Regions from separate parts of the Homo sapiens genome. Here region 1 is linked to region 2. Evidence: fine-mapped expression QTL. A gene starts in region 2. The other region holds a variant in brackets. All regions are shown on one strand. Distances are from middle to middle.

Region 1 (4,391 bases), 75 kb before region 2:
AGCAGCATTAAAAAAACAAAACCCATACAACCTGAATGTTACTGACAGCAACCTGAATAGGAGGCTGAAGTGTGATGTGGTGGACCCCAAAGCTCATGCAATATTAGTATATGAAACAAACCACAAGACTGGGCAACAGAGTGAGACCCCATCTCTACAAAAAATAAAAAAAATTTGCGCATGGCAGCGTGTGCCTGTAATCACAGCTACTCACGAGGCTGAGGCAGGAGTATTGCGTGAGCCCATGAGTTGGAGGCTGCAGTGAGCTAGGAATGCACCACTGCACTCCAGCCTGGGCAACAGAGTGGGACCTGGCCTCGAAAACAACAATAACAACAGCAACAACAGCAAACCACAACAAACCACAGTGTTCTCACTGGGAGTTAATGGGACCGACATATTAACAACATTATAGGGAGTACTGTGTTCTGTTTCATGGCTACATTTTAAGACAGATGTTTGCAAATTTCATCAAATCCAGGCGAGAGCATTTAGGATGAGGAAGTGTTCAGGTCCAGCTTCAATGACTGAAGGGAATGGTGATGTCTAGTCCCCAAAAGAATAGCTCTAGCAGTGGGAAGGCGGGGGCTAGCGAACTGGAGCACGGTTTTCTTCGAGATTAGATGTGTTAAGTGCTGGTGCATGGAAGGAGGACCAACTAAGTGGAAAGGGTCAGGAAGCGGGGCTTAAAAGTGAGGCTGGGCTCGGTGGCTCACGCCTGTAATCCCAGCACTTTGGGAGGCTGAGGCGGGCGGATCACAAGGTCAGGAGATCGAGACCATCCTGGCTAACACGGTGAAACCCCGTCTCTACTAAAAATACAAAAAATTAGCCGGGCATGGTGGTGGGTGCCTGTAGTCCCAGCTACTCGGGAGGCTGAGGCAGGAGAATAGCATGAACCTGGGAGGCGGAGCTTGCAGTGAGCCGAGATCACGCCACTGCACTCCAGACTGGGCGACAGAGTGACTCTATCTCAAAAAAAAAAAAAAAAAGTGGGCAGATTTTGTGGTGACTGCACAAAGGGCTTTGTGCCACTCAGAGCTGCTACCCAAGGAGGTGGCTTTCTGGAAGCGGTGGGTGAGTGTCCTCTCCCTGGAGTGTTCCTGCAGAGGCTGGGCACCACCTGTGCTCCCGCTGCAGAGGGAATCCCTGCTCCCTGTGGGCGGTTGGCCTCCTGACCTCTGAGGTCCCTTCTGGCTCTTGGAGTCAGGGACCAGGCACGGCGAACAAAGAGCTCCAGTTGGGGGGTTGGCTCAGGCACTGTGGTTTCCCAACACTAGTAATTTGTATTCAGAGAACAAACACAACATTGTCTGAATTCACCACTGCTGAAGGCACAGACTTGGAGAAGTCGCAATGATCTGCAATGGCACTGACGGCAGGTCAACTGGAACTGCAAAATCTCTCAAGATGGAAGCCAGTATCTCATCTATGAGCCCTGCTACACCCTGTGGCTGCCTGACCGTGGCTCTGGCTGTGAAGTCTTTAGGTTTCATTCTCTCTTCCCCACCAGGGAAGGGTCTCAGGGAGCCCCGCTCAGCTCCATCATCTGCCTGGTCACCGCTGTAGATTGTTCACTTTGGCTTTGCCTCCCATCTTCTTCCTTGGGTCTATGGCTGGTCCTCACACTCCGAGGATCCTGGATCTCACTTTTCCTTTGCTTCTACATCTACTCTTAAGGCCCAGCCCTGCCCATTCCCCTTCTGGATTTTGGGGATCCCAGCCCAGGTCAAGGTCTTTATTGCCCTTGAGCAAAGGCCCAACTAGTGTGTAGTAATAGTGCCATTTATTGACTAACATATGCCAGATGTTGAACAGTCTCTATTTCACCTAGTCCCATAATGACAGTTCAGAGCAGGTGTTATACCCATTTTACAGAAGAGGAACCTGAGGCTCCAAGGCTCAGTAACTTGCCTGAGGTTCCCCAGTGTGTGGTAGAGCTAGAATTCAAATCTCTGTTTGTAGATTCAATGTACAATGTAGAATTCAAATCTCTCTGTAAATTCAAATCTACATTTTTCTCTAGTGTCTCATGCCGATCATGCTGACGTCAGCACCTCACTAAAACCATACCATATTTTCAGTAAATATGTGTTGATTATTTCTTTTGTATTTGTTTGCTTGTTTTTAGGAGAAGAAGAAAAACATTCTACTCATTTCCCCCCAAAAAAGAAAGAAACAGAAGAAAAAGATAATCTCACATGGCTTTGAAATAAACAGTGGCCGAGCACATTTAAAACGAAAGCTTTGTGTGAGAGAAATCTGCTTT[G/A]AGGTTTTATACTTGGATTGTTCTAAGTAGGAAAAGAATTGTCTCTGTGTGCTCACCGAAGTTTTGGCTCTCAAAACAGTGTTTTAAAAAAGTTTCAATATAGCAGGGATGACATACTTCCTGATAAAGATTCTCATCACCAAGAAGTGGCTTTAGTGTGATGAATACCAAGTCAGGTGACAAATTATGCAGCTCCTAGCTAGGGTGTGATTCGGATTGACAAACACAGGAGGGATAAGCATGCGGATATTAATATTGTTGGGAGATTCTTTAATTCTGCCCAATTCTTCTATCTGGTTCTATCTTAATATCCATCACAGATTTTTTTTTTTTTTTTGAGATGGAGACTCGCTTTGTCGCCCAGTCTGGAGTACAGTGGCGCAATCTTGGCTCACTGCAAACTGCAACCTCCACCTCCTGGGTTCACGTGATTCTCCTGCCTCACCCTCCTGAGTAACTGGGATTATGGTCATGCACCACCATGCCCAGTTAATTTTTATATTTTCAGTAGAGATGGGATTTCACCATGTTGGCCAGGCTGGTCTTGAACTCCTGGCCTCAAGCAATCCACCTGCCTTGGCCTCCCAAAGTGCTGGGATTACAGGTGTGAGTCACCATGCCCGGCCCACAGATTTTATTTAATAATATACACACACTGTACTTTCATTCTCTCTAGGGGGTAAACAAACAAATCAAGGACTGTAAATATCAAACTTCAGAAAAGAGTAACCAAGCAGGACACAAACCCAACAGCTCACCCTTTCTCATTCCCCAGTTGGCAGGGCTGGCACCGAAGGTCCCTCTCTTTGCAACACCCGGCAAAGGGGACAGGAAATCTGAGCCACAGTTGGGCACTGGCACTCACAAGGTGCATGGCCTTGGGTGAGCCCTTTGATCAGTTTCTGCTCCTCAGTTTTGTTGCTGATAGCACGGGGAGTATTAGGATCTCAAAGAGCTGCAGGAAAGTTCAGAGGATGTGGTGTGGGCAAGCGCACTGTCAACTGTAAATCACTCTACAAAAAGTGATCACTATTACCTTAGTCAACAGGCATTTCCCAGTGCGGAGAATTCAGCTGACCTGCTGTTGAAAAGGAGACACTCCACCTAAAACTGCTTTCTCTTCCCCAGCACTGAGATTTATTCTTCTCCTTTGTTTTCATTACTTCCTATATTGCATGTTTATTTATTTGTCCATTGTCTGTTTCCCTGTATTAGAATGTGGGTTTCTTGCAGGCCTGGCTTTGGTCTGTTTAGTTCTCTGTTGTATCTCCAGAGCCTTGAACAGTGCCTGGAACATACTAGGCTCAATACACCATTTTTGAATTAATGAATGCTAAATGACGTCTCCAGTCTAAATGACCCCCATCTTAGCCCCCAGCTCTGATATTATGAACAAGCAGTAAAAATGTCACGTAGAATTTTAGAAACTTGAACTTTCAAAGCAGGATGTTAGAGTGGTTCATTTATTTATTTATTTATTTATTCATTCCCTTAACTAATTTTCAGTCAAGTACTATGTGCAAAGCTCTAGGCTCTGCTACATGTCTGTTACGAATATCAGTCAATACAATTTTCTTTTTTTTGAGAGAGAGTCTCACTCTGTCGCCCAGGCTGGAGTGCAGTGGTGTGATCTCGGCTCACTGCAACCTCTGCCTTCCGGATTCAAGTGATTCTCCTGCCTCAGCCTCCTGAGTAGCTGGGATTACAGGTGTGCACCACCACACCTGGCTAATTTTTATATTTTTAGTAGAGATGGGGTTTTGCCATGTTGGTCAGGCTGGTCTCGAACTCCTGACCACAGTGATCCGCCTGCCTCGGCCTCCCAAAATGCTGGGATTACAGGCATGAGCCATCATGCCCCGCCAGTCAATACTGTTATAAAACAAAGCAAAATGGTTTTTTGTAAGAAAAAAAAAAAAAGCTTTCAAATACATATTTAAATGACAAATGCCCCCCTAATTTCCTATTTATGCCCAAATGATTCTATCTGATGTCTTCACAGCTGATTTACAGGCATCTGTGGTCTGGTGGCTTCTTTCTAGAATTAGGAAGCTCATCTTAATTTCCAAAGTGACATCTAGTTAGATGCCTAGGGGAAGGTATCGTATGGTCCAATTTCTTC
Region 2 (4,391 bases):
CAGATAAAATACAGGACACCCAGTTACATTTGAATTTCAGACAAACTCCATGGAACATGCTTAGATGAAAGAATGATTCATTGTTTATTGAAATTTGATGTAACTGGGCATCCTGTATTTTCATTTGCTGAATCTGGCAACCAGACCTAGAGTTCCTTTCTAAAGGGACACTTTTCTCAGCAGCTTGGATTCCAAGGGTCTCACTCTAGGTTAGACCCCCATTTAGATTCGCTCTGGAGAGTTTTCTGAAGTCAGACTACCTGGGTTCAAACCCTGGATCTGCCACTGCTGGCTGCGTAACCCTGGACAAATGACTTAATCTCTCTCTATTCTCTGTTTTCCTATTCTAGAAAGTGGGGTTAGGAATAAGAGCCAACCTCAAAGGGCTGCTCTGAGGATCAGAGGAGAAAACAGCTGCATAGATTAAGCACATAGAAAGAGCTCATTAAAGGTACTTTCTATTCTTGGCTGTGCTTCTGGGTCTCAGTAACTTCCCTCTCTGCCTGGATTTGCTCCTGGCCATTTTCTTGGAGAGTGAGACCCATCCAGAGGGGAATGTGGGACAAGGAGGGAGGAGGAAGTAAGGACTGAGAAGGCCCAGAGACGTGCCTTCCTCTTCTTTCCAGGGTCCTGGCCTGTCTTGTCTGTTGGGCGGGTATGCTTCCTTCCTGGCCTTCCTTGTGGAGCATGTCTGGGAGTGTGCTAGGAAATGAGGGAGGAAAATATGTAACTTGATATCTGCTCCTTGACCCTGGCTGACCTGGTTAACTCTCTCCAGGATGGAAGCAAAGCCTGCCCGGGAAACCTTCCATTGCAGGAACATCTCGGCCTGAAGCTGTCATCAGGGAGCAGGATCTGCTTCCCGGACTCTGAGCAGAACAATGGGAGCCCCAGCAGGCTGGCGAGGCTGACAAGCCCTAGGACGGTGACCTCTCCGATCTCCAGATCGGAAACTCAGAAACGTGTAAGTGCCAGAATCCGCATTTGGGAATCTGTTATTTCTCCCTCTGCGAGTCAACCTGATCACCCTGGAAGCCTCACTGTCTCTCAGCCCTTGTTCCCATTTTTCTTTCCATGAACACCGCAATCAGATACGAGATTCCAGTAATGATGGTTCTTGAAAATTAAACAAATCAAAAAGAAAGCCAGCCAAGGTATGGAGTGGGGGACCTCTAAGTTCCCCTGGAGGAGACACTGGGGCCAGGTTCCGAGGTGCATTCGGAGCCAGAATCCCTAATGGAATTGAACAATTATCCTGAAGCTGCTCTCTGAAAGCCGCGGTTTTCCTAAAACACTGTGCTTGGCGTGCCTGGGCTTCTTGGCACTGGCCCATGACCCACAGCAGCAAATCGTTCCCAGGAAGCTATTGTTATTTGTGTATCTGATAGCATTCAGCTGAGTACACTGACAGCAACATTTAGAAAGGAAAAGAAAAAAGAAGCGTAGAGTGAAAAGGACAAAAAGGAGGCTTCCAACATCCTGGTGGGAACAGAAAACCAGCAAAGCCTCTTTTCCAGCCCTTATCCTTGTGAGTTTGGACTCTGCAGAACTGTCATCCCCCAGGCATAGCTGCAGCTTGTATGAAGGTGGGCATCAGGCGCGGAGATTCAGGACAGTGTGCACCTGCTTTCCTCCAACGGGACCCCCTCTGTTCTTCCCAGGAATGCCTGTAAACTGCCACTGCCTCTAGGGGCTGCACCAAGTCCCTGTGTACTCCCAGGACACAATGGAGTGGAATGGAGTGGCTCTGTTCTGTCAGGGCCTAACATTCCAAATGAATTCATTCCCTTCTGGGAAAAAAGAACCACCTTGCTCAGAGCACAATGTTCCCATGTCTTGGCTTACCTTGAAGCATTTTTGATACACCTGTTGGGACAATGCGTTCTGCCAAGAGAAGGGAAGTAGCATACTTTGTTCTATTTTTTACTCTCAATGGGCTACGTTTCCATTGTGTTGGTTTCCCTTACAGAAAGTAACACACACAGAAGAGAAGGTTATAGGATTCCATGCTGCTTGGCAAAGGCACAAAATATGTGCACATATTTACATGGAATATGAGGGTAAACTAGAAAATTAAGGGTAATCTAAAATAGAAAAAAAGAAGAAAACAATAAGTTAAAAGTATGAAAAGACATCCAGAATGAGCAAGTTACTGAGGTTGTGCCTCAACTTTAGCTTGAGTTTCCTGGCAGCAAAGGTAAAAAGGTAAGTACATTGAATCACATACTTCTTATTATCTTCTAAAAGGAATTAACGGAGTGGAATATATAAAAAGCACTGAATAACATAAGGAACAAGATCTTCAATGGTCATTTTGAAAAAGCCTCAGAAGCGTGCTTATAGATGTTTCTTCTGCTGGCTTTCTCAGCAAGATGATACTAAGATACCATCCTAACCACCTCATCTCTGCCTATAGCCCAGGCTATGCCTAGACATGCCTGGAGCTATGCCAGTGGTTCAAGGGGTTTCTACAAACACTTGCTTCTACCTTTGCTTTAAATTGGTTTCTTCTCCTCTGATTTCTCTGGTCTCCACCTGTTTCTTGATTCTCCAGCTATATTTGACACATCTAACCGGATTCATGAGTCTTTAGCCTGTCTGTGGGTTGGCTTGCAGGCTCACTGACCCCAGCAAACTCCCATGCCTGGCCTTGGGTCCTGCCCACCCACCTCCATGTCCTGCCTAAGTCTCGGGTCACATGGCCAGCCCCAGTCCAGGCCAAGAATAGGTTGCTGCTCATTCAAAACAAAATGACACTAAACATCAGCCCTCAATAGAGAGGAATTAAATCTTAACTTTGTAAAATAATTTCAGCAGGGAGTTGAGAAAATACAGCATAACTATGTTGATATTTGATTATTTAATTTAATAAAGATCTAGTGTAGGCCAGGCATGGTGGCTCGCACCTGTAATCCCAGCACTTTGGGAGGCCAAGACACGCGGATCACCTGAGGTCAGGAGTTCAAGACCAGCTTGACCAAATGGTGAAACCCTGTCTCTACTAAAAATACAAAAATTAGCCAGGCATGGTGGCGCATGCCTGTAATCCCAGCTACTTGGGAGGCTGAGGCAGGAGGATCGCTTGACCCCCGGTGGCAGAGGTTGCAGTGTGCCAAGATTGTGCCATTGCACTCCAGCCTGGGCAATAGAGTGAGACTCTGTCTCAAAAAAAAAAAAAAAAAAAAAAAAAAGGATTTAGTGTAAAGAGATTAAAGTAATGACTAGCCAACATATCCATTGATCTGCTTCTCTTGCGTGTCCTATGTCCCTACAAAACTTTGGGCTAAGTGCTAGAAGGTAGTGAATTCAAAGTTGCCTTATCCGGCAAGAGACAGTGAGGACATCCTGAGTTTAAAACTGAAGAGTTGCATCTCTGCTGTGGATGTGACAAGTGTGAGCTGCTGTTTAGAAGGGACAATGGAGAAGCCTGACTTGCCTCCTCCCCCAGCAGGGACATCATTCTATTTGACATCGTGGTGAGATCCAGAGTTCCTCAGGGTTTAGCCAACGTTTCCATCAGAAAAGGAGCTGTGAATCCATTCAAGTTCTTGCTCAAGGACTTGGCTGGGACCCCAGAATTCCACTCCATCTAGCATGAAAGAGATGATTTAGAACTGAAAGGTTTTAGTCCAGCTGTTACCAGTCAGCCACCTTGATCATAAAAGAACCTCTGTTTGGCTCTTGTGCAATCTCTAGTTTTAAGTAGGACCACACACTGCTGGTCTGCAAATTTGAGTTAGCAAAATATACCTCTAGGTGGTAGGGTGATTGTTCTATTGGCTGAAATTGCTTGATTTGTTCTGTTTTAACACCATCAATGGAGAATATCTTCCCAAAACAAAAAAATGTTGCTGATGATATTAATAAGTTGTTCTATCAGGCAATAATTAGACCAGAGGTTCAGTTGCTTCTGAAGTTGTTGTCCTATTGCTAGGTAATAAAACCATGTTCTCAGCAAAGAGGATGTCATCTTCCTGTTTCCTCTAGCTGGAGGACGTGTATTCAATGTATTCAAATATATTTTAAAATTTGCATTTGACCTGTCAGAATAGGTTTTTTTTTTTTAAAAAAATATATATTCTGATTTAGCACTAGGATTATGCTGCAGCTGGAGGGCCTGAGGATCTATTTTAAGATTAGTTTTTTTTGTAGCAAGATGTTTCCTTTTTATGAAAATCAAGCCTGGGGCAGGGGAGAATATGTAGATATTTAGGGTGGGACAGTCCTTTTTTTTTTTTTTGAGATGGAGCCTTGCTTCGTTGCCCAGGCTGGAGTGCAGTGATGCGATCTTGGCTCACTGCAACCTTCACCTCCCGGGTTCAGCGATTCTGCTGTCTCAGCCTCCCGAGTAGCTGGGATGACAGGAGTGTGCCACCACGCCCAGCTAATTT

Which allele goes with the higher level. Alleles are on the strand shown, and positions count from the first base shown. SD is a standard deviation of normalised expression in the study named.
With allele G in place of A in region 1, the expression in lymphoblastoid cells of the gene that starts at base 1,793 in region 2 is higher (moderate effect, 0.42 SD a copy in GTEx).

The links.
Region 1: its variant is fine-mapped to the expression of FRMD4A-AS2 in lymphoblastoid cells (GTEx, PIP 0.99).

What each region holds. Positions count from the first base shown.
Region 1 is chr10:13,914,695-13,919,085 of GRCh38, forward strand. The region is part of intron 2 of FRMD4A (FERM domain containing 4A); the gene reads right to left. Among named protein-coding and RNA genes, the nearest start is that of FRMD4A-AS2, 75 kb to the right of the region's middle. The variant G/A (reference allele first, on the strand shown) is at 2,270.
Region 2 is chr10:13,989,788-13,994,178 of GRCh38, forward strand. FRMD4A-AS2 (FRMD4A antisense RNA 2) reads left to right here and starts at 1,793. Exons shown (of 3, transcript NR_199003.1): 1 at 1,793-2,205. All of the region lies in intron 2 of FRMD4A (FERM domain containing 4A), which reads right to left.